Homo sapiens: one gene and its partners. The protein of the gene in region 4 purifies or fractionates together with the protein of the main gene of each other region. This does not show direct contact. Each region holds a gene or a part of one and is shown on either strand. Other genes may lie near its edges. The genes, in order: ACSF2, SPG7, MCCC1, MAIP1, HDHD5, ATAD1 and XPNPEP3.

Region 1 (4,285 bases), on a different chromosome or scaffold from region 4:
CCCCACCTGCCAGGACGTTCTAGCAGGACATCGGTGCTTTGCTGTCCATCTTCCCATGCTGCAATTTCTTCCTGAGATTTCTATAAATATAAATGTATGTATGTATTATATTTACTCCCCTGCCACCTATCTCCTTCACCCACCAGGTGCTGATGAGGTCAGACTATCTTTTCTCACATCTGCTTTCTGGAAGGAGGGCTGGCTGAGAGGGTCTCCTTTGAACATCTGGCCTGGACTCATCCCCATGTCTGTCCATCTGCTGTCATCCCAGGCCTGGCCTGCCCACAGCCCGGGCCGCAGTCACCACTCACCACCAGGTCCTTCATATTTATCTTGTTGATGATGGCTCGGATCAACTCTGGAGGTGCAGGGGACCCAGCAATGACACCTGAATCAGAGAGAGGGCTGACACAGCTCCCCAATTCTCCAGGCCCAGTGGAGTCCTTTCACCTACAGCTCATTCAGGGGAGGAACATTCCCTTTTCTCCTCTGACCCCGAGCCTTTCCTACACCTGGCAGCTGGCCCTGGGCTGGTGTCCAGGGACACTGGGGATCTCCCTCCCTCCCACCCACATTTTTACAGCGTCCTTCTTGCCCCCTATATAAAAGACTGGGAGCATAGCTAACTCACCCGGGCCATTCCTGTGGGGGAAGCAGCCCCCTCCCCAAGCCTGGCTGCCCTTGGCCCCACCCCACCTCCACACATGGTCGAGATGTCATAACTGGAGAAGTCTGGCTGGTTCAGAATGTCCACGAACATCGTGGGGGTACCATACAGGAAGGTGCCTCTGTATAGGAGGAGGTCTCGAAATTAGGCTTGGAAGTGGAAGGGAACTCCCTGTTCTCACCCACCCCGCCATGAAACTGCAGCAAAGGGAATAGGCAGGAGAAGCTCCTGAGGCAGGAACTGGTCCTCTCCTGGGGGTCCTCCACTGTCCCCATCCTCAGTCTCCTGGCTGGAGGGAGGAGGCAGCTTGGAAAGGTGTCAGGGCCCAGGAGTGAGGAAGAAGAGGGTTTTATCAGCCCACAAGTAGCCTGTCCACCAGTGCCCACCTCTCTCTGCTGATGGCCTCCAGTGCCTTCTTGCCATTGAAGATGGGAGAGGCCAGGATGAGGGTGGCACCGTACATCAGACACATCATTGTGCCTGCCACGGAACCCAGGCAATGGTACAGGGGGTTGGGCAGGATCATCCGCAACTGCTCTGGTGTCTGGTGATGGAGACAGGAGGCTGGGTCTGTCTTGGAGCCAGACGCCAGTTCCTCTCTAGCTGGCAAGGGGAGCCCAGCCAGCCCCCCACCCCTGCCTGAGCCACCCCTCCTGCAGCCTTGCCCTGGGCCTAGTGCCGCCTCACCTTCTCATGCAGTTTCAGGCGCTCTCCTAAAATGTTGGAGTTGTTGACAATGTTGTAGTGGGAGAGGGTGGCCCCCTTGGGGCTGCCTGTTGTCCCCTGACAAGGCAAACAGGGCATGGCTTGGCCTCCTTCTCATCTCCTTCCCACCCTGGGCCACTGCCTTGAAGAGCACGGGACCGGGAATCAGGAGACAGGGATTGTTGCCCCAGATCCATCTGTTCAGTATATTTGCAAAAGGTCTACCACGATACCAGGTGTCAGGGTCCAGCAATGCAGAAGATAAGGTCTCCGTTCTCATGCCACTTACATGGCCCAGAGAACTCTGCCACCCACAAGCTGGCTTGGGCAAATTCTCTCTTCTGCGTCTCTGATTCCTCATCAGCTAAATGAGGGGCAGCCTGTAGCAGTTCCAACCTGTGTTGGTTCAGTGAATCTGCCACTGCACCGGGAACAAGAGGGCTGGAGTGGAGAGGGCGGGGGGCTAGGGGAGGAAATGTGACAAGGACACCAGGTGCTGATATTTTCCAGGGCAGAGAGGACAGCTGAAGGCCAGTCTCAGTAAAGAAGGCATGCTCTCCTCTGCTGTCTCCCCATCCCCGCGGAAGTGTCACAGGGACAGGGGGCATGTGTCCATCTGGGCTTGGGGCCTGGAGACCTCTGCCCTACCGAGGTGAACTGGATGTTGATGGGGTCATGGCAGGACAGGAACTGCTGGTTGTATTGGAGCTGGTCCAGATGCTGCCGTGTGCTGCCAGCCGCCACCACTTCATCCAGGAGCAGGGTCCCCGGCAAAGGGGCATCCACCGAGATGACTGTGGTCAGATCTGGGAGCCTGGGGTTGGGGACGATGGTGAGAGACAGGGGCTGAGGGAGGGGGCAGGGTGGGTAGGAAGTGAAGGAATCAGGGATGCTGAATGATGCACCACCCACTAACCTGGGACACACCCACCTCTGACTCTTCAAGGCCCCTGGCTGGGCATTCTCCACTTCTGGACAGATCTGCTTCAGGACGTTGTAGTATTGCTGGGTCTTGAATTGCTTGGGGAACACAAGGGCCTTGCAGCCCACCTGTGGAAGGGGAGTCCCCCACCTCCAGTCAGCGGGGAGCCCCAGACTAGAGCTCTGGGGGAGTCCTCACTAATCAGCTGCTCTCATACAGATGCACCCGCTTCTGACACACACACCTCCAGCACACTCACAGGCACCACACTCCAAGACAAATGCACACATGTACCAGCCCCGAGACACACACACCACACCCTGAGACACATATGCATCACATATGAGGATGGACACACGCACACACACACACACACACACACACCTCTGCCCTGACACACACATGCCCCCGTCCCTGCACACTCACGCCAGGTTTGTGTCTGACCAACCACGCTCTCCTTGGAGTTGGGGCCACCTTCCAATCACACATGGCCTAAGGAAGGACACTCTGCGTATCACCCGCCTATGCATGCCCTAGCTCACACCGTCAGACTCTGACAAGCAGAGTCTGTGCAGCCCCCTGTGCCAGGCCCCAGCCGGGCCCCTCCCCGACAAATGAGCTGTACCTTCTTGAGGACATACTCCAGTTCCATAGCCTGGTAGGCTGGGTTCACAGACACCTGGTGGAAGCGGCGAGGGCATATCAGTATTCTGGGCAGACCCTGTCCCTCCTGCTGCCCCTCCGCCCCCAGGAGGCATAGAGGCAGCACTCTACAGCCCCCTAACTCCCAGAGACCTCCTTGGTGGGCCTCAGGAGAAAGCACTACCTGGTTTGAAACCAACAAGGCACTGGTTTGATCCTGGGGCTGAGGGCCTGAGGGGCTCCCCTTCAGTGATGTTCCCCCATGCACACCAAGCTGTGCCAAGCAAGCCCCTCCTCACCAGAATGATGCCCGCCTGGGCGGTGGCCAACTGCATGAGCACCCATGCATAGGAGTTAGGTCCCCACATGCCCAGCCGGTCACCTTTGCAGAGGCCAATGCTCAGGAGGCCAGAAGCAGCTTTGTCCACCTAGTGTAAAAGATGGGGCGCAAGGGGTGAAAGGGGGCAAGCAGGAAGGGGCCCAAGACTCCCACCCTCAGCCCTTAGCCCGGAGTTCTCATCACAGTCACTGGGGACAAAGGGACAGGCAGATTCCCAGCCTCAGTGGGTCTGCCCTGGGGCCTGCATAGTTAACAGGTGCCCCAGGAGCTGCTGATACAGGAGGCATTGGACCCCTTGTGCGTCAGTCCTGTCTCCTTCTCCTGCCATCCCTCGGGGTTCTCTGGCAGCCCTAGCACATTGCCCCATAGCCAGGTGCCCACGCTCCTGGTTCTGCCCAGCTAGGGCAGCTTGGGAGCTAGTACTTGCCCACTTTGAGGTTTCCAGGTCAGGACCCACCTCCTCCTTGAGTTGGGCAAAGGTCAACCTGACGTCTTCATGGAGGACGACCAAGGCCTCTCGTTCTGGGACCCTCTGTGCTGTGGTCTCCAGGCACTGGCCCACAGTCTTGCTGTTAAGATGCTTTTTGGTGCACCCCTGAACGTAGCTGAGGCCTCCGATGGGCGTGGAGACCATGCGATCCACCTCTCTGGAACTGTAGGGAGAGGAGCTATGGGTTTGACTGTCCCAGATCAGTCTCCCTGGAACCAAGGGCATGGCACACCCAGCCAAGCCAGGGGGTAGGCTGCTGACAATGTGTTAGAGACCACTAGGTTTCCTCCAGATCTTCTTGTAAGCCTAAAATCCCCCAGACCCTTTTCCCAACCTCAAGCCTAATCCCAAGGCAGCAGGACAGGGACAAGGTTACACCAAGCTGGAGCAAAGGGCCCTCCTTCGCCTTCCCGGGAAAGGTGAGATGCCATAGTGAAGCCTGGGAGAGCCTGCCTGTGCAGACAGACAGATCTTACAAAGCAGGACCATGCCTTCACCCCTAGCCCCTGCCTCCTGGAG
Region 2 (4,285 bases), on a different chromosome or scaffold from region 4:
CACTTTGGGAGGCCGTGGCGGGTGAATCACAAGGTCAGGAGTTTGAGACCAGCCTGGCCAACATGGTAAAACCCCATATCTACTAAAAAAATACAAAAATTAGCTGGACATGGTGGCATGCGTCTGCAATCCCAGCTACTTGGGAGGCTGAGGCAGGAGAAATGCTTGAACCTAGGAGGTGAAGGCTGCAGTGAGTCAAGATCGTGCCACTGAACTCCAGCCTGAGCTACAGAGCAAGACTCCATCTCAAAAAGAAAAGAAAAATGTAAGAATAAACCCTGTGTCTACTAAAAATACAAAAAAACTTAGCTGGATGTGGTGGTGTGCATCTGTAGTCCCAGCTACTCAGGAGGCTGAGGTGGGAGAATCACTGATCCTGGGAGGTCGAGGCTGCAGTAAGCTGAGATTGCACCACTGCACTCCAGCCTGGGCGACAGAGTGAGACCCTGACTCCAAAAAAAAAAAAAAAAAAAAGCAAATCCCAGGACTTTTGCCCTCATCCTGAGGAGGGGCTGCCCTGGGCCTGCCCCAACCCTCCATCTTCTGTACATCATCAGCCTACAAAGACACGAGAATGGGCCTGCCCCAACCCTCCATCTTCTGTTCTGTACATCATCGGCCTACGAAGACATGAGAATGGGCCTGCCCCAAACCTCCATCTTCTTCTTTTTTTTTTTTTTTTGTTTGAGATGGAGTCTGGCTCTGTCACCCAGGCCAGACTGCAGTGGTGCTATCTTGGCTCACTGTAAGCTCCGCCTCCCGGGTTCACGCCATCCTCCTGCCTCAGCCTCCCGAGTAGCTGGGACTACAGGCACCCGCCACCGCACCCGGCTAATTTTTTTTGTATTTTTAGTAGAGACGGGGTTTCGTCGTGTTAGCCAGGATGGTCTCGACCTCCTGACCTCGTGATCTGCCCGCCTCGGCCTCCCAAAGTGCTGGAATTACAGGCGTGAGCCACCGCGCCCGGCCCAAACCTCCACCTTCTGTCCATCATCGGCCTACGAAGACACGAGAATGGGCCTGCCCCAACCCTCCATCTTCTGTACATCACTGGCCTACAAAGACATGAGACACACAGCCTCAGAGCAGTGATCTTCCAGGTGTTGCTGGGTTATAGAATTAAAGGTGCATCTTTTTTTTTTTTCTGTAGAGATGGGGTTCTCCATGCTGCCCAGACTGGTCTCGAACTTGTGGGCTCAAGAGATCCTCCCTGCCTCAGCCTTCCAAAGTGCTGGGATTACAGGCATAGCCACTGCACCCGGCTAGAGGTACATTTTGATCAAGGGAGTACTTGCCAGTCACTGGCATTCTACATCTTCAGAGATTACAAGTCAACAATAAACCTCTGTTTCAGTACCCGCTGGCCCCTCATTTGTCCTACTAAGGAACCTGTCAGGGTCCATGGTCCATACGTGCTGACAGCTCCCACCTGGTCTGTTTCCCTCTCAACACTGAAATGAGAATTTCACCTTCCTGTGTCTACCCTTTTCCCGTTCCATTTTCCTGTCTGTAGAAGAGAGCAAGCCCAGGACATTATCACGGTCCTCCTTGACTTTCTTTCTTACTGCTAGGCTGATCTTGCCTTGCTAACTGAAAGTGATCGCTTACTTTTGAAAACAAAATATACTGAAAATAGAAAAAGCTGAACGTTGTTATTGTCACAAGGCTGGCCAGATCACTAGGTATCTCCGGCATCTGCACACTCACTCTGACCATTTGGGAAGCTTTCATCAAAGAGCACAGTCAGTGAAAATTATACAAGAATGTGAATTCAGAAGCGCCACACAACTAAAGAAAGTGACTAAACAAACTCCAACGGACTTGCACACGGTTGGCCTCCACAGCCACAGGTTTCATCTCTGCAGGTTTAACCAAGCACAGAATGAATGTATCTGGGGAAAAACGTGCATCTATACTCAACATGCACAGACACATTTTTGTCATTATTCCCTAAAGTATAACAACGATTGAAATAGTATTTACAGGGTATTGGGTATTATTATCAACCTACAGATGATTTAAAGCATATCAGAGAATGTTCTTAGGTTACACACAAAGATTTCGGCATTTTACACCAGGGGCTGAGACTTCGCCATCCTACGTCGGGGGCTGAGACTTCGCCATCCTACGTCGGGGGCTGAGACTTCGCCATCCTACGTCGGGGGCTGAGACTTCGGCATCCTACGTCGGGGGCTGAGACTTCGGCATCCTACGTCGGGGGCTGAGACTTCGGCATCCTACGTCGGGGGCTGAGACTTCGCCATCCTACGTCGGGGGCTGAGACTTCGGCATCTTACGTCGGGGGCTGAGACTTCGGCATCTACATCAGGGGCTTAGACTTCAGCATCCTACACCAGGGGCTTAGGCATCCTCAGGTGCTGGTATCCTTGGGAAGTCCGAGAACCAGCCCCCATGGATACCCAGGGATAACTATATTTCCAAATCTCCTGGCATTGTATCATTCACTTCTATATTTATTTAACCCTCCCACTAAAAAGTCTAGTTAACTATAGGCAAAGACAGTTTGAGATTTTTGATTGCAATCTGTTTCTCAGATTACAAAGCCAAGTTAGGTTTAGTTCAAGCATCAACAAATACATCCAACATACTTTCCAAAGAATCCTGTTCGCTTGTAGGAAACTGGGATCCTGTCCTTGGCCTCGATATTCAGCTCATCTTCAGCTGCTCGAAGCTTCTCTTCAAACTTGTCAATATTTGCAACCTGCATTCGGTACATCAAGGCTAGCCGCTGGGGGGCAGAAAGGAGAGGGGACCATGAGAAACGCAGGGACAGACGAGCAACCCTACAGTCAACAGAGAGCCCGCCTGGAACTCATGGTAATGACAACCTCAGCATTGTGAAGAGGACACCATTCAGAAACTAGAGGTGATTCCTAACGTACGACGGTTCCACTTACGGTCTTTCCATTTTACAATGGTGTAAAAGCAATATGCACACTAAGCTCCTTGACCTACGATGGGGCTACCTCCCAGTGAGCCCCTGGGAAGCTGAAAATATCCTAATTCAAGGAACATCTGTACTTCCAAGTCTAAAAAATTTGTTTCCTCAACCACAATTTGAGAAATAAAATTTCAACAGATAGACTTTCTATTTTCCACTCATAGGAAAACTAAGAAATGGAGGGATGTCTGCAAGTTAGCTCACAGCCCCACGTCTGATGTGTGCCTCAGACTCAGCTACACCTGCAGACACAGCAGGAGCCCCCCAGAGGCCGGCGAGGCTGCAGCACGGGACTGAGGATGGCAAAATCAAGACTACGGCCAAAAACAGATGTTTTAGGAAACTGCGGCCACAGAGGGTTCATGTTTAACCACAAAACCTGAGACTGTTCATCCCTCACACCAGGACACCAACAGGTCCGTCTCCCTGGCACACGATTCTCCAAACGCAGCGTTTTCCTAAGTAAACTCCGCATGTTTAGCTCAGATTTCAGCATGACTGGACGGCAACACCCCAAAGGGAGGACACAGACGGACTTGCGGGACTCTCTTTGAGGTTAACTGGAAACTCCAGCAGAGGACAGGGATGAGGGGTGGGGATGGCACCTGCTGCTCCCTCACTCACACCCCAAACTGCTAAGACAGAATTCTGAGCATTTTCTCTTTAAGGCAGCTGTTTTATCAGGTGACTCGTCTAGAGCTGAGCATAGTGTTGTAGGTTAAAATAACCTTCCAGACTGAAATAATCAGGCATCCACCAGAGGATTTACGTGAATGAGCACCGTCTTCTGCACTTAGCCATGGTGTATTTTAAGAACAAGGTTTCCTGTTTTTAAAAATAGCAAGACAGCGCCAGGCGTGGTGGCTGACGCCTGTGATCTGGCACTTTGGAAGGCCAAGGTGTAAGGATCACTTGAGGCCAGGAGTTCAAGACCAGCCTGGGCAATATAGTGAGACCTCATCTCTCCAAAAAAACAAAAAATTTAAAAATTAGCCAAGTGTGGTGGTGCGCGCCTGCCATCCCAGCTACAGGGGAGGCTGAGGTGGGTAGATCACCTGAGCCCAGGAGATCAAGGCTGCAGTGAGCCGACATCACACACACCCCTGCATCTCAGCCTGGATGAGACAGAGGGAGACTCTGTCTCCAAAAAAAAAAAAAAAAAGCAAAAGAAAAGGAAAAAGCATTCTGAATCCTGAGTAACCCAGCAAAGGGGCAGAAGCTCTGGTGGAGGCCACGGTCATTTCCAGACCCGGGGGTGGGCCACACCAACCCCAGACCACTTTCCTAATCACTGGTCCACACATTACCCTGGGTTAAATTGCT
Region 3 (3,175 bases), on a different chromosome or scaffold from region 4:
TCTAATCAACACATGAACTTGGGGATTAAGTTTTTAACACGTGAAACATAGGGGACCCATTCTAATCATAGCAGACATGATTTATGTTTTACTTTTCCAATTATAGGCATCTTAAAGTACGGAGACCATCTTTTATATTTCTCTGTATTTTCCACAACATTTAGCATAGTCTTATGTATTCAGCAAGAACTCAATTCAACAAATATTTAACACTTCAATGAATACATAAAAATGCAAAGGGCTGCACATCTGTTAGTAAAAGTAACACAGAATCTAGACAAAAGTAAACTGAATGGTTTTTCTTCATAATGAAAAAAGTATTTCTAAAAAAAGCATTCAGCAGGCTCAGGCTTTTAACTCTTACCAACTTTTTCTGTAAAATTATGCTTTTCAAATTTACCAAAATGTTATATTAAATATTAATATATTTTAGCATGTAATAGATATATAATACATATATTTTTATAAGCTTAGAAAGTACAATAAAGGCAGAGGCAATCTAGTTAGAAACTTTCCAATCACAAACACTAGAAACAATATCCGTGTCTTTACTTATTTATATTTATGTATTTGTTTTGAGATAGAGTCTCGCTCTGTCACCCAGGCTAGAGTGCAGTGGTGCGGTCTCGACTTACTGCAACCTCTGCCTCCCAGGTTCAAGCGATTCTCCTGCCTCAGCCTCCCAAGTTGCTGGGACTACAGATGTTCACCACTACACCCAGCTTATTTTTTGTGGAGACGGGTTTCACTATATTGGCCAGACTGGTCTCGAACTCCTGAACTCAAGTGATCTGCCCGCCTTGGCCTCCCAAAGTGCTGGGATTACAGGCGTGAGCCACCGCGCCCGACTAATATCCATGTCTTTTAAACTACCTAGCAAGTTGCTTTTTGGCCAGACAAAACCTTAGTTGTTGAACTCCAGGGCACCTGTCTCTGAAACATATTACTGCTCATTTTCATCATAACAGCAACTGGAAAGTAATTCATTTAATTAAATGTCCTTTTCTCTTCCCCCCTTCCTAAAAGAGACTACCTTGTAAAAAATTTGAGGCAGAAACAAACATTGGCTTCCAATAAAAAATAATTCAACTTTATTAGTATGAAATATTTTGAGATAATTAGTGACCCAAATGCATGATTCTCCAATATGAAAGGTGTTCAGCATAAGCATACAATCATTTAGTAAAACTGCTCTTTATGAGACCCCCAGAAAAGCTGGAGGCACTTCCTCTTTTTGGTGGAGAGAGAAGACACTACTTAACTGGCCATTTCCTTGCTGGAGTTTATTCCGATTCCCTTTTGTCTGATTCTTCCTCCTCAAACTCGACTAAAGGAGTGTGTCTGTTGGCCTGAGCACCTTCTCTGTAGAACACTTTCTTTACTGTGCCATCCTTTGGAGACTTTATGGTATGCTGCAGAGACACATGACAGGACAAATGATAGCTGCAATACTAATGAGGACTGAGTATACACCAAGTCAAGAAAGGGAGACCAAAAATGAAAACTGTAGCCAACTTTGATGTTTTGTCATCTCTCGGTGCTTTCCAACGCTTTGTTGTTGTTGTTGTTTTTATTTTTAACATCACAGCACACAGGGAGAACAGTAACAAGTTGAGAGGAATGAACACTGGGACACAGCAGTAACCTTTCAACGATATGACTGGGAAGCTCTGGTGTAGCTCGCAGTTCTCAACTTGAGCTTCACATGAGAATTGCACCTAGGAAGCTTTCAACAGTTTTTTGTTTGCTTGCTTTTGTTTTTTTTTTTTTGTTTTTTGTTGTTGTTGCTGTTGAGACGGAGTCTCACTCTGTCACCCAGGCTGGAGTGCAACGGCATGGTCTCAGCTCACTGTAACCTCTGCCTCCCGGGTTCAAGCGGTTCTCCCACCTCAGCCTCCCAAGTAACTGGGACTACAGGTGTGTGCCACCACACCTGGCTAATTTTTGTATTTTTAGTAAAGACGGGGTTTCACTATGTTGGCCAGGCTGGTCTTGAACTCCTGACCTCATGATCCACCCACCTCGGCCTCCCAAAGTGCTGGGATTACAAGCGTGAGCCACTGCGCCTGGCCTTGTTGTTTGTTTTTTTAAATTGAGACGGAGTCTCGCTCTGTCACCCAGGCTGGAGTGCAGTGGCAAGATCTCGGCTCACTGCAACCTCTGCCTCCCAGGTTCAAGCAATTCTCCTGCCTCAGCCTCCTGAGTAGCTGGGATTACAGGCATGCACCACCATGCCTGGCTAATTTTTGTATTTTTAATAGAGATGGGGTCTCACCATGTTGGCCAAGCTGGTCGTGAACTCCTGACCTCAAATGATCCGCCTGCCTCTGCCTCCCAAAGTGCTGGGATTACAGGCATGAGCCACTGCGCCCAGCCTTTCAAAAGTATTGATCCTTGGGCTCTACTCCTGGAGATTGCAATTCAATGGGTCTGGGGAAGAATTTTTTCAAATCTCCCCAGGTGACTGTACACATGCTCCTTGACTTACGATGGGGTCAGGTCCAGATAAATCCAATGTAAGCTGAGGAGCATATTCAACGTGTATGGTTTTGCACCATTGTCAAGCTGAAAAATCCTTAATTGAACCATTGTAAGTTGAGGACTGTCTGCAATATTCAGCCAGGGCTAAGAATCACTGACCTACCATTTGAACCATCTAAAAACCTAAACAGCTAATTTAATTTGATTGCGGTTTTCACTTTGAAACTGATGCCTGGCATCCTTGGTTCGGCCTTAGAACCAAGATAATACCAACAGTTAACATTAGAAAATACCAACAGTTAACATTCCAGAAACACCAACAGTTAACATTCAGTTGGATTATCTTAGAAAATACCAACAGTTAACATTCAGTTGGATTATCGCCTGATTCCAAGCTATTGATAATTTCATTAATTTCAGAATCAGAAATGACAGGTGCAATTTCACAAAGTTAAAGTAAAACTCTTTTCTACAAGAAGGATAGTTTGGTTTTGTTTCCTACAATTAATGCTTCGTCAATCATGGCTTTTCATATTTAAGGTGGTATTAACTTACAAAATAAGGCAAAAGAACCATTAGGTATGATTGCTCCCAAAGTCCTCATAGCAAATGAACTCATGATTTCCTTACCTCCATCTTCATGGCGATCATAACCATGAGGGAATCTCCCGCTTTCACTTTGTCTCCAGCTTTG
Region 4 (3,803 bases):
AGCCAAGGAGTACCAAGGTGCCACCCATGCGAGTTAAGAAGTCACTGTGGAAATGAATCCTCCAGCTCCTGCCACTCGTGTTGATGCCAGGTGAAGCAGAGAAAACCCCCTAACTGAGCCTATCCAAAATTTCTGAGCAGTGAAATAGCAGGCAAAGTCAATGGCTGTTTGAAGCCAATGAATTTGGGGGTAGTTTGTTAAGCAGCAATAGACAGCTAAAACATCATTTAATTAAATTCAGCAACTTTACCTCTTTCTAATTTCTTAACTCTCCTGTTTCATATCCAGTGTGTCTTTCTGACCTTTTCTCTTCATAAATAACTTGTCAAATTTCAATTCTTTTCTTCCTAAAGATCTCTTAGTTTTCATACCTTCACACTACCTTCCATTTTCTGAAGAAAGGAAACAATGAAATCTGATTAAACTTACTCATAGCTTGCACTAAGAAGTTGTTTAGTTTCCACATTCTGATTCCCCAACTTAACCTGGAATACACTGGCTCCTCTTAAAGTTTCACTGGGGATGTTGGCACTGGTTAGATACCAAAAGCACATCAGGATGTTAACAAACTTCCTTCCTTAGAGAAAAAACATATACACACATACGAATACAAATCAAAATAATCTATCATCCATATAAACAAAATGAAATCAGAAATTGGCAGCAGTTATACAGTTGTTACAGGTCAAATTTTGTGCTTATTCTGATGTGACTTAAAATACTTGTATTGATACTATTTTATTTTTAGAAAATTGTCTTAGGGTTTATGGCATACTTGCCCTCTTCTCTGTATCTCAGTAATAAAACTACTACTTAACTGAGCACGTACTTTACTAAGTATACTACATGGATTATTTTCAATTAGTGGCATTTTCTTTTTCTTTCTCTTTTTTTGACACAGAGTCTCACTCTGTCACCCGGGCTGGGGTGCAGTGGCGCAGTATCGGCTCACTGCAACTTCCGCCTCCCAGGCTCAAGCGATCCTCCCACCTCAGCCTCCTAAGTAGATGGGACCACAGGCACGCACCACCATGCCCGGCTATTTTTTCATATTTTCAGTAGAGACTGGGTCTTGCCATGTTGCCCAGGCTGGTCTTGAACTCTTGAGCTCAAGTGATCCACCTGCCTCAGCCTCCCAAAATGCTAGGATTACAAGTGTGAGCCACCACATCTGGCCAGGCATTTTCTAAGATTATAATAATCTCCTGACAGATACCTGTTGTCAAACCAAAAATGAGGAGAAAAAAAATATTTTTTGCTGCTCAGTAACTATCTTAACTTCAACTGCCAGAAAGAGTAAAGGCTTCCTATTCTACCCAATTCACCTTACTGTGCCTGGTGATTCTGACAAACTCCTGATGCAAAAATTAGTTAGTGACCATGGTGCTGAGATGCAATTTGAAATATTAGGGAAGCGGAAAATATTTATCACTAAAAATATCTTTACAAATATTTCAAAATAATGTGTGCATGAAAAATTTTATCATCACTAAGAGTCTTTTTCTTCCATCTTGGGAAGTGTATAAGCAGAGGCTCCATTTCCTGTGTGGCTGGCACATAATACATATGCAAATAGAGTCATCCCTCAAAATCCACGGAGGATTGGTTCCAGGACCCCCCTGTGGATACCAAAATCCACAGATGCTCAAGTCCTTTATATAAAATGGTGTAGTATTTGCATAACACACATCCTCCAGTATACTTTAAATCATCTCTAGATTATTTATAATACCTAACACAATGTAAATGCTAATGTAAATAGTTGTTATACTGTATTATTGAGGAATAATGACAAGAAAAAAACTGCACATGTTCAAGTACAGATGCAACTATTTTTTTTTAATATTTTTTACCCTAGATTGGTTAAATCTGTGGATGCGAAACCCCCAGATACAGAGGGCCAACTTTGTATGTATCAGGAACAAACAGTGAATTATCAGGAATGCTATAGGGAAAATGTATGCCTCAGACAAGAAGAACCAGATAACCACTAAATTTCCTACCAACTTTTTTCATTATTCTCAAATAGATCCAATTTGGGAGTTCTGCAGTTAACCTTTTCAAATTGTCTTTAGCTGACAATATCTAATTTGATTTTCTTTTACCCCTCATTCCTTCCATATAAAGTGCAGCTTTAAAATACTCAATTGTTTCCTTCAAGTTAGGAAATCTGAAACATAAATATTTTCTATTTGAGACGTGGGAGCCACTCAAACTATTTTCATCAATGTAAGTGATGATGTTCTCTACTGTGAATAAAATAGTAGCAGAAAAAAGTTCTAGATAGAAAGGCTTAAGAAATGATGACCATATCTCAACTCTTTCAGAAGTAGGTCTTTAAAGAATGGATATAACATTTTCTTTGAAGTTCTATAAATACTTGTCCTGACAAAACTCTACTATTTTGTGATTATCCACTAGTTTAGCTTATCTGGACAATTATGGATCATTTCAAGTTGACTATGCTCTGGTATTACCTTTCTCATCATAGTAAATGGAGATGTCTCCTGTTGATGTAAATACAATTTCATCTATGTTAGCAGCAAGGGCATTTTTATGGTTGTCAGGTAGTGAAGTAACCTTTTCTTTCAATGCATGTAGCACCTAAGTTTGAAAAAAGCAAGCCATTAGTTCACTGATACAATTTTTGAAAACTTTCAAAAAGTGATCTTTATCATGGAATACATTTTTCCAAACCTATTTTTAAATTTACTACCGTATTTACTCATCCTCAAAAGCAAGGCTGAAATGTATCTCATTATTCAAGTAGGTAATTCCTAACAGAACATTCCATATAAGAGCAATTGGAAGACATCATGATTACTTCATTATGCCTTAAGTGGCAGGAGTTATTCCATGCTTTTATATGACCCAAAGTACCCATAAGAACAGATACACAGACTCTACTTTGGATGCTGGCACACACACTATTTTTAAGCATAAATAAGGAAAATGTGCATCATTCTATTGCAAGAGAATAGCATTTATTTTTAAAGCAAAATGTAAAATATACTTTACCTCTTTGGCCACAAGTTCTTCCAACAGATCAAATTTACACTGTGACAGCAACTTGGATACATGAGCAAAAGCCTTGAAAAAAATATTAAGGGAAGTGTGGGGATTATTATTTCAAAATACCATACCATGTTCATATTTAAATGGCTAAGTGTAATACAGACTATTTTATGGTAATAGTGATAAACAACATCAAATATTAATTTATCAAGGCATGACTCTTGGTTGACTTTTCATATATGGCCTTCCCACATATATAGCAGTAAGTGACTTGACCTTTAATTCTGGATCCACTCTCAGGACCGGGAAATGATAGTGTGTGGTGTACAATCTAGATGTCTCAATAAAAATCCTCCTTTATATTTCTTTTTAAAATGATGAAGTAAACAATCATTTGGCAGTTATATGACCTACCTCTTAATCATGCATAGATAGCAGTTGGAAAGGAGAACAGTCGAGACTGCATTGGGAGTCTGGAAATCTGGGCTGTAGTCTGAATCTCAGTATGGGAGATAATGTAGGTTTGGGAAAGTGGGAGAGAAGGTCATTAGTTTATGTGGTCTAAAACAGTAGATCCTAACTTTGAAGTATGAAATTCCATTTTCAAGGAGGGAAAAACCCAACTGCAATTCTCCTCACTGCTAGCAATGAGAAAGCAAACTGTGAGTTAAGATCCTACCTGTCTTCAGGGAACTTTCAGTCTACATGGGAAAAGGACAAGTAAACTGACAAGTTGAAGAATTTTGACAGGGATAAGAACAGGATGACTTGGGAGCATACAGAAGAGC
Region 5 (4,285 bases), on a different chromosome or scaffold from region 4:
ATTTGGCTGCAGAGAAAAGACTGCATTGGGTGGACTGAAGGGAGTTAACTGAAAGACCAGGTGGGACCAAATGCAACCCAAGACAGAGAAGATGGAGCATTTACCTGGGAGAGTGGTGGTAAGAATGGAGATCAGGGGGCATTATCAGAGACAGAACAGTCATGACTTGGTAACCATCCAGATACAGGGGTGGAGGGAAGAGGGAGCCACACGGACTCCCATGCTTTTTTATTTTGGTCTGGGAACCCGGGAGGGTGGATGCGGGTATGAGTCACTGAACCAAAGGGCACAGTAGGAGCGGGCAGCGAGAGGTCATTGGAGGATACAAGGTTAAGTCCCACTTTGGACCTGGGAGACAGGCAAGTGGAGACATCAGCACTGGACAGGTCCTGGAGATGAAAATTTTGGAAGGTCTCGCCTCTCAGAGAACCAGGAAGAACAATACTACTTAATAATGGACCACACAAGACCTGCCAGCAAAAGACAGTGCAAGGAGGAAAACCAAGAGCGTGTGGGGTCCAGGAAGCTGAGGTATGTCTCGGGTCCAGTAAAACAGGGACTGGAGTGGCTGTAATGATCCCATCTTCTTTCCACTGAACAGGCAAGACCCCCGGGAGAGGCAATCTTCCAGCTCCTCCTCCATGTTAGCTTGTACATGAGCCCTCCAAGCTTGGACAATGACAGCTACAGAGCCAAGCAGGAGGAGGGCAGGGACCCTGGAAAAACAGGAGGAAGCAACTCGAGCCAACAAGATATCACACCTGAACACCAAAAAACAGCTGCCAAGAGAAAACTGACCAAGCCCCACACGCCACACAGGAAATGCCTGGACAAATGGTGCCTCTAACCCTTGGCTTCACAGGCTTATGCTGTTGCACCCAGACCTGTCACTGTCCCAAGCACTCAGCCAGACATGTAACAAAGGCATTTTTATGTATTCTTTTTGGCAGCCCTTTGAGGAAGTGTCAGCATCTCCAAATGGCCTTGCCTGGCAAAATGTGCCGGTTTATACAAGGTGTTCAATATACAGGCACTAAATTACCTGACTGGACAAATAAGGCATCAACCTCAAAAAGAACTCAGCAAGGGTCACCCAGTTCACAAGTGCTGGATTCAGGATTCAGTCTCAAATTCAGCTGGCAACTCGGCAGCACCTCAGAGAAAACAGGGGACCCCAGGACTGCTTCCCCCACCTCCTGCCAGCTCCCAGCTGTGAGTTCCATTTCTTCTCTCTCCTCAATACACTCATGTACCCTCAAGGATCCCTGGAGCCCCTCCCTATTCCCCAAGAAATCTCACTAGAATGGGGGTCCTAACCTAGGCCCACAGATAGATTTCAGGATGGCCATAAATCCCCTTTAAACACTACAAGCATTTTTCCTGGGAAAAGTAACCATAGCACTTTTCGGATTTCATTTTCTTATTCTTCTCAAGGAGAATCACTACCTGGGCTTAAAGGGAGGAGGGGATGTGATTTGCCCTTTACCCCCATACCTGACACAGTGCTTAGACTCACAGGTGATTGACAAAGGCTGACTGGATGCTGAATGACCCAAAGGATAAATGGTTAGGGAGAAATAGATACTTCCCGACCACCCTATCCCTTTCTGAAGGAAAAGAGTGGCTCTTAGAAAGTAAGTCCCTTAAGGACTGGGTGATTCCAACACTTTTTTGTGGCGTGATCTTGGCTCACCGCAACCTCCATCACCTGGGCTCAAGCGATCCTCCCACCTCAGCCTCCCAAGTAGCTGGGACTATAGGTGCGCACCACCAAACCCACCTAATTTTTGTATTTGGCAGAGATGCGGTTTCCCCAGGTTAGTCTTGTCTCAAAGCTGGTCTCCAACTCCCAACCTCAGGCAATCTGCCCACCTCGGCCTCCCAAAGTGCTGGGATTACAGGCGTGAGCCACCGCGCCCAGCCAACAATTTTTTTAAGAAACAGTGTTTCTTTAAGAAACTTGGCTGGGCACAGTAGCTCACGCCTGTAATCCCAGCACTTTGGCAGGCCGAGGTGGGCAGATCGCCTGAGGTTGGGAGTTCGAGACCAGCCTGACCAACACGGAGAAACCCTGTCTCTATTAAAAATACAAAATTAGCTGGGCGTGGTGGCACATGCCTGTAATCCCAGCTACTCGGAAGGCTGAGGCAGAATTGCTTGAACTCGGGAGATGGTGTTTGCAGTAAGCCAAGATCACATCGTTGCACTCCAGCCTGGGCAACAAGAGGGAAACTCCATCTCAAAAAATAAATAAATAAAAACAAAAAATAAATAAATAAATTTTTAAAAGGCCTAGATTTTAAGTGATATTAAGGAATTACTAATGTTGTTAGGTATGATACTGGCATCGTGGTTATGTTCAGAATGTCCTTATTTTCTTTTTTTTTTTTTTTTGGTTGAGACAAGACAGGGTCGCACTCTGTCACCAAGGCTGGGTGCACTAGTGTCATCTCAGCTCACTGCAACCTCAACCTCCTGAGCTCAAAGGATCCTCCTGCTTCAGCTTCCCAAGTAGCTGGGACTACAAGTATGTGCCACCACATGCCTGGCTAATTTTTTTTTTTTTTTCTTTTGTAGAGACAGGGTCTCCCTATGTTGCCCAGGCTGGTCTGGAACTCCTGGGCTCAAGTAATCCTTCCAACTCCCAAAGTGCTCAGATTACAGGTGTGAGCCATGGCACCCAGCCAGAATGTCCTTATTTTTCTTAGAGGTACACACAGAAGAATTTAGGTTTGAAATGACAAGAAATCAGAGATTTACTTTAAAATCTTAGAGCCACAAAAAAAGGAGGAGGGAGATAAGCAAAGCAGGTGTTGAAAAATGTTAATCATTGCTCAATCTGGGAGATGGGCACAGGGGTTCATATTATTCCCCATTTTTGAATTTTTGAAAACTTACATAGTTAAAAAACAGCTCATTTGTACAATGGTTGCAAAATTTACCATACATAGTTTTAACGGTCATTGCCTAAACAGTCACAAGATTTGCTTTCCTTTTTTTTTTTTTTTTGTTTGGTTGGTTTTTTTTGAGACGGAGTCTCACTGTCACCCAGGCTGGAGTGCAGTGGTGCAATCTCGACTCACTACAACCTCTGCCTCCTGGGTTCAAGTGATTCTCCTGCCTCAGCCTCCCAAGTAGCTGGGACTACAGACGCGCGCCAACACACCTGGCTTATTTTTTATATTTTTAGTAGAGACGGGGTTTCACCATATTGGCCAGGCTGGTCTCAAACTCCTGACCTCGTGATCCGCCCGTCGCGGCCTCCCAAAGTGCTGGGATTACAGGCATGACCCACCGCGCCCGGCCCAAGATCTGCTTTCTTAAAAATAAGAATCCATAGCCCCTGCTACTTAGAACAGCAAAGTTTTCAGGAAAATTGAGCAATATCCATAAGGCTCCCTCACCCATCACTCCAACCCCTCCCCAACCTTCAGGATGTACACAGAGAACCAGGCACCCAGTACCATAAAAAGTGAAGGTGTACATCAATTATAACAAATGTACCACACTAATGCAAGATGGTAATACAGTCACGCACCATAACGATGTTTCAGTCAATGACACACTGCATATACAATGGTCCCTTAAGATTATAATGGAACAGGAACTCATAGCTGAAGAAGAGGCAAGAGAAAAGGTAGCCACAGAAAGAAAAGAACATCCAAGAAAATTCACAGTGAAGGGTTCAGCAGCTTTTACAGACCTCAAGTTCCTTAAAAAGTCTGAAACATGAACTCCAACGCCAAAAGGTTTTCATTACTAGAGAAGAATGTTTATGGTACATTATCTGTTTACAAGCAAACCTATGACAAAAAAAAAGAAACCAAGCAAACCACAATGGACATATTTCTGATAAGAGTGACACCTCAAGAGCCTCAGAGAGGTCCTTCAGAAGATATCCAGAAGAAAGCACTGTTATCGCAGATGACAGTTCCATGCATATGACTGCCCCCTAAAGACCTTCTAATGGGACATGGTGTGAAGGCAGAAGACAGTGATATCAATTACCTGACCCGACCTTATGTAGGCCTGGGCTAGTAGGTGTTTGTGTCTTCATTTTTAACAAAAGTTAAAAAAAAAAATTTTTTTTAAGGTAGGGCACTGTGGCTCACGCCTGTAATCCCAGCACTCTGGGAGGCCAAGGCGGGCGTATCATGAGGTCAGGAGTTCGAGACCAGTCTGGCCAACATGGTGAAACCCCATCTCTACCAAAGATACAAAAAATTAGCCGGGCGTGGTGGTGCACACCTGTAATTTTTTTTAATAGAAAAAAGCTGCCTGTAAT
Region 6 (4,285 bases), on a different chromosome or scaffold from region 4:
ATCCTTTTTTTTGGAGACAGAGTCTTACTGTCACCAGGCTGGAGTGTGTAACCATAGCCCACTGCTGCAGCCTCCTGGGCTCAAATGATCCTCCTGCCTCTGGGTCCTGAGTAGCTGGAACTGCAAGGCATGTACCACCATGCCTGCCTAATGTTTTAATTTTTTGTAGAGACAGGGTCTCACTTTGTGGCCCAGGTTGGTCTTGAATTCCTGGGCTCGTTATCCTCCTGCCTCAGCATCCCAAAGTGTTGAGATTACAGGTGTGAACCACTGTGCCCATCCTCTTCCTAAATCTTTTATTTGCATATAGCACTTACTAAGTAAAGCCATTACCAAAAACATCCGTCTTAAAAAGGAGTTTAAATTTTTAAGCCTCTATAAAGCTTAAGATAATAAACACAGTTTTTATTTGTTGAAGTTGGTTATAAAAGTATCAGATTAAGCTCAAAGAACTAATTTAAAGGTTGCAAAGCTAATAATAAAAGCTAAATGCCTCACATTCATTGCAGTACTCATTTGTCACCCATCGTAATTATTATCACTGTGGAGACCATTTTAGGAAAGTATATAGAAAAGGTGCCACTCTAAATAACGTTATCTCTAGACTCACTGATAATTTGTCAGACAAGCCAATCTGAATTTTAGTGTAACTTTTTTTTTTTTTTGAGACGGAGTCTCGCCCTGTTGCCCACCCTGGAGTGCAATGGCGCAATCTCGGCTCACTGCAACCTCTGCCTCCCGGGTTTAAGAGATTCTTCTAACTCAGCCTCCCCAGTAGCTGGGATTACAGGCGTGCACCACCATGCCTGGCTAATTTTTTATATTTTGGTAGAGTCGGGGTTTCACCGTATTAGCCAGGATGGTCTCGATCTCCTCACCTCGTGATCTGCCCACCTCGCCCTCCCAAAGTGCTGGGATTACAGGCGTGAGCCACAGGAATGGGGATAAAGCAGTTTACTGAATAACTATAAGGCTAACACACTTATGTAACTACTACCCAGGTCAAGAAGGGAATATTGACAGCTTGTGTACCTTCTCTGTTACAGCCTGTCCCCAGAAAGTTAGGATAGCCACAAGCTTTCTTTGCATATTGAATCTTTAGGCACTCCAGACACTCATAACTGCTCAGTTAATAACACTAATTGTAATCCTTGAAGAGGAAAAACTTAATCCTGCTAAAAAGTAACAAAACCGATCTACTAGAAGGGAAATATTCCAAGTGATAGATGAATAATTTGAATCAAACACAACACTCTAAAATCTCTGAATATGTTTATGAAGTGGTAGAGTAGCTACAAAGTCAACAAAATATGGAGGCTTTTGCATAAATACTTTGTTCTAAAAACCTTGAAATTTAGTTTTTAAGAAAGTACCAAGTGTAACAATATAAAAACCCAGAGATTTAAGTAACATGTGTATAAAAGTTTTATAATGGATATGCATTCTATATTAAATTATGTGATCAAAATGATGAAATTAATAATTCCAAGTATCTGCAAACAGGTGGTTTTAGATTACTATTCTTTATTGTTTCATATGAGCCATCCAAAAGAAAAATGTCAGTAGAAGATTCAAATTATAACTGACTTAACCAAATTTTAAGCACCTAAGTGAACTTAATTAAAATTTGCAGAATGCTTGAAAATACAATTAACATGTATTGGTAAAGCTTATGGATTTAAATTTAAAAGTCAGCTTTAGAAAAGTTTAGTTTCATATGATTAAACTTAGATTAGTTGCTGTTAGAACTTGAATCTTCAAGAATTATAAAGACCAGTAGAAAATTCTATGTATGCTTGAGGAAGAGCTTGAACATTATTTTGAAGTGTTTGATGTGAAAAATAAAATTGCTAGAGTTATGGAATCAGGTGCAGATTTCTTTTTTTTTTTAAATTGAGATATTTTTGGGAATTTTCATACAAAATTATTTTTCCTCTCATTTTGAATTTTATTTTTATTATATATAAGAAAATTTTGGACTCCTCCAGATCCCTTCCAGTTCACCCTAGCATGCCATCTATATAGATGGCATTTTAAAAAATACTGTTTCATAGGAAAAGTTGAGCTTTGAATTAAACAAATATTTTGAGAGGTCTGCCTATTACAGTTTTTGTTAGGGCTGTCTGTAGATGGTTTATTTTAATAACCATCTTAGTACTAAGTTTAGGTGCCAGATCATGTAGTACTGAGTTTAGTAATTTGGTAAAATTATAATTTTAGTATTATATATTTAGTATTATTATATATTTAATATTATTAAATTTAGAAAATGCTATCTCATTTTAGTTGAGAAACAGTTGGTGGTGGTTCCCAAAATGTTCAAGATCCCAACCTCTAGATCCCTTGTATTAAAAGTGTTACCTTAAATTGTATTTAGCAGCAAAATGCTGTTAATGGAGACCATAGGTTAATAATATAGTTTTATTCTTTGGAAATTAAAACAGGAGTGACTGATAATTTCTGTTTCTTTTAGGAAAAGATTGTTTGGAAAAAGGCACATGTCCTTTGGCTAAAACTTAATCTGTGAGCAACAGCAAAACAGTGTTTGCCACAATCTGTTTTGAAGTTGTTTACCTTCTGTAGGCTAATATCAAAGCACTATGGTGCATTGTTTGCTTGTGAAGGTGGAGGGCCTTAGATGATTTTGTTTTTCAACTGTTGATAAAGTGGTATGAATTTGGATGTCAAGGTGAGCATTTAAACTGAACCTTTTCATGAAGGGAGAGGGCACAGGATGCTGTAATCCCCAAATACATGCTCTTAACTGACACTGAGCTTAGAACATGGCATCTTCCTTTCTTCTATCTTACCTACTATAAACAAGATTAAATAAAAGCAGAATTGAATATTGGGAAAGTTTTTTGTGGAAGGAATTACTATTCTATTGATTATCATATAAATTGAAGCAAATATCCCCTTAAAGGTAATAAATAACATATTCATTTCCAGGTGTTCTTCTCTATGGGCCTCCAGGCTGTGGTAAAACGTTGATTGCCAAGGCCACAGCCAAAGAAGCAGGCTGTCGATTTATTAACCTTCAGCCTTCGACACTGACCGATAAGTGGTATGGAGAATCTCAGAAATTGGCTGCTGCTGTCTTCTCCCTTGCCATAAAGCTACAACCATCCATCATCTTTATAGATGAAATAGGTATGCTATGTTTTCTATATGAGTATTTTTAAAGGCCATTTTTAGAGATATTTAGATAACCAGATTTAGTTTTTAACATTTATTAGGCCATGTTAATAAAACAAAGAACATAACCAACATCATAATATGCTATGTATAATTTCTGTGTTGTAGAATGAACCATAGACTATATACTCCCCTACTTGATAGATAGGTTTTTCTGTCTTTTCTCTGTTACAAACAGTATGCAGTAGATATCCATGTACATGTTTTCTCATGTATATATGTTTGCCCGGGAAAGATACCTAGAAGTTGAATCATTTGGTTGTGTGATATATCTATCTTCAACCTCACTAGGATTACCAGTTCTTTAGTTATTATACCTATTTATGTTTTCCTGCTTGGTAGTAAACTTGGGCATCTTTTAGCATGTTGATTAGCCATTTGGGTTTTCTTATTTGTGAATTGTCAATATTTCTTTGGAGTTATTTGTAGTTTTCTTTTGTTGATGTTTATTATGATTACACCTATTTTCTAGTCTATCTTTTTTCTGATAGTTTTTTTTTTACAGTTTATTATTTGGCTATAGTCAGTATTTTTCCTTTGTGGTTTATACGTTTTGTATCTGGTTTACAAATACCTTCACTATCCCCATAAATGTTCTCTTTTTAAAAATTATATATAACATGAGATAGGAATCTAATTTCATTCTTTTCCAAAAAGACAGCAAACTAGACTATCCTTTGCTGTATGTCATGACTTTTATATTAATGGACTCTTGCTATATTATGGATCAATATTTTTGTTCTGTTCCTGGTACGATGTATATATAAATATATATAGTTATACTAATACAGTATTATTAGTATTGGATATATATTTATATAGCTTTATTACTGTAGTTTTGAATTATATTTTATTATTGTTAAATTTAGTATGATAGGCTATGTAAATATGTAGAGAGAAAAATAGATACAAATATGTAGTATAGCTTTGTTTTGGTTACTTGTTTGCTTTATGTATCTTTTCTCATCAATTTACTCCAGTTATTTTGGTGTTTTGGTGTGCATCTTGAACAGAGGAATATATAGCTAGTTTATTTTGTTTTTGTTTTTTTTTAAGACAGCATCTCACTCTGTTACCCAGGCTGGAATGC
Region 7 (3,953 bases), on a different chromosome or scaffold from region 4:
CCTCAGACAGCCCAGATCTCTGCTTTACATATGCTGGATACTTACGACTTTTGTGGATGAAGTACTTCTTAGTGGAGTCTGTGAGCAGGGTGACTGTTCTAACAATACATGTATATGCTGCAAATTATAGCTTATTTTGAAATATTTGATATAAAATATTTCAACTGGATTAGAAATCCATTCCCATTATAAGAAATTTCATGTTTGTTGGTCAGCCATGGTGGCTCACTGTACATATTTTTCTTATCATAGTTAAAGGATGTATAATAATTTTTTTTCTACAAGTCATATGTACTTACCACTCAGCCCCCTCAAATTTGTTCCATTGTGCCATACAAAGTATCTTTTTGTGCCTGCCAGAACGTGAGAAATGTTAAAGGTACTCCTCATAGACAGTCTCAGATTTTAAAGATGGTTCCTAACAGGGAGAGAGAGATGGCTACACTTACGATTCATTATATGGTTGACAAAGGTCAAATATTCATAATTTTGCAACTTGATCCTATTTCCCCACAAAATTCATCCTTCATAAAATGTGCATGGCTACAGTTTACAGTCTTGAGTGTTATGGGGACTTTCTGGAGACCTTTCAGTCAGTTTTGTGCCAACCTTTTAATAGGCTGGATCAAATCCACCAGATTCTTCCTCTATAAGACTGATAAAATCATTTCAAGTTTGCTATCATGATTTTGTGACAGCAGCTAATGAATACTTTGTAAATTATTTTGTAAAACCAGATGGTCTCACGTTTATACTGTTTATACTAAATAGACCGTAAACTCTAGATTCTAAAGTAACACACACACACCATACCCCTCTATATTGTTTTATAGTTTTATTTTTTTTAAATGACAGTTACAAGTGCTTTTCCCTTGATGGGCAATGACGTAACTATTTTCAGTTATTAGTAATGCCTTAAAAAGTAACAGCATTTTGTCTAAACTGAACTTATATAATTGCACAAAAGTCATGGAAAGCATTAAGAAATGCTGGTAAAGATTGAAGTTTTCTCAGATTCTTGCGCAATTCCAAGAAGCCTTGATTCCAGTGGGTCCTCTGATTCAAACAATAATGATGCTCAAACTCAGTGACACACAGGTAGAGAACAGCAGCACAACCAGGAGAACCCATGTGGTTTGTAACAGTGAAATTCTGCTCTACTGTTAAGGTTTAATGATGCATTCATTCATCTTTTCATTAGGAGCATAAAAAACACCTCAAATTATATTTTCTCAGGCTTAAAACTTGTTTTGAGCTATGGATTCTACTTCAGGAAACAAAAATTAAAAAAAAAAAAACACAATCACACCATAAAAACCTCTTCTAAGCAGGTTCCTTTATGTTGCTACTGTCTGTGGTGCCTGCCTAATTTTCTAATAGACACACAAACGAATTACATTCTCAGCTATCAGACACTAGTTGAGGGACAGCAGATAGGTTCTAACTCAAATTCTGTTTTATTGGCAGAAGTTATTGGAAACACTGTTACAAAGGACTCCGAGGTCACCGCTGGACTGGTGAACAGCTCACTGTGCTTTCTTCTCCATCTCTGACATGGGAACAGGAGGGGGAGAAGCAGCATTTGTGCTTCACATTTCTGATCTCTGTATTATTAACAAAGCTGAACAGGGTGTGGGTGTGGATATTTGGAAAGACATAACAAAGGTACATTTTTCTGTTTTAATAAGTTGCAATGTCTTTAGATGGAGGTTTAACATGTTTTATTTGTATCTTAATCTCAAGACAGTATTTCTACGGTGAAGGTTTTTCCCTTTCTCACCTTACAAAAACGGAGAAAAAAGCAAGGTTTTGAAGGAAGATGCACACACAGTACTTTAAGTTACTCTCAGAAGCATTTTCCTAACGTGGATACTATGATTATGAGAGGAGGAGAGTTCTCACTCCAGTTTTTCTCTTCTTTTTTATTGAGACAGGGTCTTTCTCTGTTGCCCAGGGTGAAGTGGCACAATCATGGCTCACTGCAGCCTTGACCTCCTAAGCTCAAGCGATCCTCCCACCTCAGCCTCCTGAGTAGCTGGGACTATAGGTGCAAACCACCACACCTGGCTAACTTTAAATTTTTTTGTTGAGACAAGGTCTCTCTATGTTGCCTAGGCTGGTCTCAAACTCCTGGGCTCAAGTGACCATCCCTCCTTGGTCTCCCAAAGTGCTGGGATTATAGCTGTGATCCACTGCACCCAACTTTACTATAGTATTTATACTGTTGTGTTTCAAATAAAGAACACAGTCTGTTTCCTAATTATGGTGACAAAATAGTAATTCCTGAAATAAATACATAAAAGTATGTGACACTGGATATCCAGATATGTTTCCTTCATTTAGGTGGTATTGTTAATGATCTAACCATGTATCTTCAATTCAGGGAGAAAAATTCCAGTAGTAACATTTGAGTAATTTTTTTTAAGTTAAGATTTTTAATAGGAATGCCTGGTATATATATTATTTATTATACTTAGAACTAAAGGCTCGGCTGGGCACGGTGGCTCACACCTGTAATCCCAGCACTTTGGGAGGCCAAAGTGGGCAGATCACGAGGTCAGGAGATCAAGACCATCCTGGCCAACATGGTGAAACCCTGTCTCTACTAAAAATACAAAAATTAGCTGGGCATGGTGGTGCGTGCCTGTAATCCCAGCTACTTGGGAGGCTGAGGCAGGAGAACTGCTTGAACCAGGGAGTTGGAGGTTGCAGTGAGCCAAGATGGCGCCACTACACTCCAGCCTGGCGACAAAGCAAGACTGTCTCTGGCTGGGGGCCGTGGCTCATGCCTGTAATCCCAGCAGTTTGGGAAGCTGAGGTGGGTGGATCACAAGGTCAGGAGATCAAGACCAGCCTGGCCTGGCCAAGATGGTGAAACCCCGTCTCTACTAAAAATACAAAAATTGGGTGTGGTGGCAGGTGCCTGTAATCCCAGTTACTAGGGAGGCTGAGGCAGGAGAATTGGTTGAAGCCGGTGGGTGGAGGTTGCAGTGAGCCAAGATCACACCACTGTACTCCAGCCTGGGTGACAGAGTGAGACTCTATCTCAAAAAAAAAAAAGAACTAAAGGCTCAACACAAATAAATGATAAATGTTCAATGTGATGGATATGCTAATTGTTCTGATCTGATCATTATATATGTATCAAAACATCATTATTTACCCTGTAAATACGTACAATTATATGTCAATTAAAAACTTTAAAAAGGCTGGGTGCAGTGGCTCACGCCTGTAATCCCAGCACTTTGGGAGGCTGAGGTGGGCAGATTATGAGGTCAGGAGATTGAGACCATCCTGGCTAACACAGTAAAACCCCATCTCTACTAAAAATACAATAAACTAGCCGGGCATGGTGGCACGCGCCTGTAGTCCCAGCTACTCAGGAGGCTGAGGCAGAAGAATTGCCTGAACCCGGGAGATGGAGGTTGCAGTGAGCCAAGATCGTGCCACTGCACTCCAGCCTGGGTGACAGAGCGAGACTCCATCTCAAAAAAAAAAAAAACAAAAAAACCCCACAAAAAACCTTTAAAAAAAAAAAAAGCTAATATAAAGCCTTTACCTTAAAACTCTGAATTTATCTTATTCACTTTTTACCCTTAGAAGTTTATGAACTTGCAAAGGCAGTTGAAAACTATGGTAAGTCTTCAAGTCCCAGCTTTATTAAATGTAAGAGACCAGCAAACTTTAACCTAAATTTTAAGAATTTTAAGAAATATTTGGAAAATACTATTAGAAAAATAAAATTATTTGATATCCAGTAACAGTTAATAGCATTCTCTGTATTAAAAAATTACTAAAGGGAAATGGGTATGTCTGCGGCATGGCTGAGAATGAGTAAGATCACACACAGCTTATCTGCTCAACAAATCCTGAATATATCAGACAGCCCATAACATTGCTATGAGAAGTCTGATTCAAATGCTTAGCTGCTATAGTTAGTTAATCTGGGACTC

The links.
Region 1: the proteins of MAIP1 (region 4) and ACSF2 purify together in Homo sapiens (affinity purification with mass spectrometry; one large-scale study listed by BioGRID and IntAct). This does not show direct contact.
Region 2: the proteins of MAIP1 (region 4) and SPG7 purify together in Homo sapiens (affinity purification with mass spectrometry; one large-scale study listed by BioGRID and IntAct). This does not show direct contact.
Region 3: the proteins of MAIP1 (region 4) and MCCC1 purify together in Homo sapiens (affinity purification with mass spectrometry; one large-scale study listed by BioGRID and IntAct). This does not show direct contact.
Region 5: the proteins of MAIP1 (region 4) and HDHD5 purify together in Homo sapiens (co-immunoprecipitation; one large-scale study listed by IntAct). This does not show direct contact.
Region 6: the proteins of MAIP1 (region 4) and ATAD1 purify together in Homo sapiens (co-immunoprecipitation; one large-scale study listed by IntAct). This does not show direct contact.
Region 7: the proteins of MAIP1 (region 4) and XPNPEP3 purify together in Homo sapiens (affinity purification with mass spectrometry; one large-scale study listed by BioGRID and IntAct). This does not show direct contact.

What each region holds. Positions count from the first base shown.
Region 1 is NC_000017.11:50,460,321-50,464,605, reverse strand, and holds part of ACSF2 (medium-chain acyl-CoA ligase ACSF2, mitochondrial isoform 2 precursor), read right to left. Parts: intron 3,930-4,285; coding exon 3,734-3,929; intron 3,365-3,733; coding exon 3,236-3,364; intron 2,974-3,235; coding exon 2,920-2,973; intron 2,423-2,919; coding exon 2,304-2,422; intron 2,187-2,303; coding exon 2,021-2,186; intron 1,451-2,020; coding exon 1,355-1,450; intron 1,212-1,354; coding exon 1,054-1,211; intron 789-1,053; coding exon 697-788; intron 389-696; coding exon 312-388; intron 111-311; exon of another isoform or gene 81-110; coding exon of another isoform or gene 7-80; exon of another isoform or gene 1-6. UniProt on the Homo sapiens protein: Acyl-CoA synthases catalyze the initial reaction in fatty acid metabolism, by forming a thioester with CoA. Has some preference toward medium-chain substrates. Plays a role in adipocyte differentiation.
Region 2 is NC_000016.10:89,524,793-89,529,077, reverse strand, and holds part of SPG7 (mitochondrial inner membrane m-AAA protease component paraplegin isoform 1 precursor), read right to left. Parts: intron 2,750-4,285; coding exon 2,610-2,749; intron 1-2,609. UniProt on the Homo sapiens protein: Catalytic component of the m-AAA protease, a protease that plays a key role in proteostasis of inner mitochondrial membrane proteins, and which is essential for axonal and neuron development.
Region 3 is NC_000003.12:183,014,155-183,017,329, forward strand, and holds the end of MCCC1 (methylcrotonoyl-CoA carboxylase subunit alpha, mitochondrial isoform 1 precursor), read right to left. Parts: coding exon 3,112-3,175; intron 1,413-3,111; coding exon 1,284-1,412; 3' UTR 1,064-1,283; downstream 1-1,063.
Region 4 is NC_000002.12:199,958,555-199,962,357, reverse strand, and holds part of MAIP1 (m-AAA protease-interacting protein 1, mitochondrial isoform 1 precursor), read right to left. Parts: intron 3,091-3,803; coding exon 3,019-3,090; intron 2,605-3,018; coding exon 2,478-2,604; intron 578-2,477; coding exon 430-577; intron 393-429; exon of another isoform or gene 251-392; intron 1-250. UniProt on the Homo sapiens protein: Promotes sorting of SMDT1/EMRE in mitochondria by ensuring its maturation.
Region 5 is NC_000022.11:17,152,239-17,156,523, forward strand, and holds part of HDHD5 (haloacid dehalogenase-like hydrolase domain-containing 5 isoform 2 precursor), read right to left. Parts: intron 1-4,285.
Region 6 is NC_000010.11:87,783,335-87,787,619, reverse strand, and holds part of ATAD1 (outer mitochondrial transmembrane helix translocase), read left to right. Parts: intron 1-2,949; coding exon 2,950-3,150; intron 3,151-4,285. UniProt on the Homo sapiens protein: Outer mitochondrial translocase required to remove mislocalized tail-anchored transmembrane proteins on mitochondria.
Region 7 is NC_000022.11:40,929,683-40,933,635, reverse strand, and holds the end of XPNPEP3 (xaa-Pro aminopeptidase 3), read right to left. Parts: 3' UTR 821-3,953; downstream 1-820. UniProt on the Homo sapiens protein: Catalyzes the removal of a penultimate prolyl residue from the N-termini of peptides, such as Leu-Pro-Ala. Also shows low activity towards peptides with Ala or Ser at the P1 position.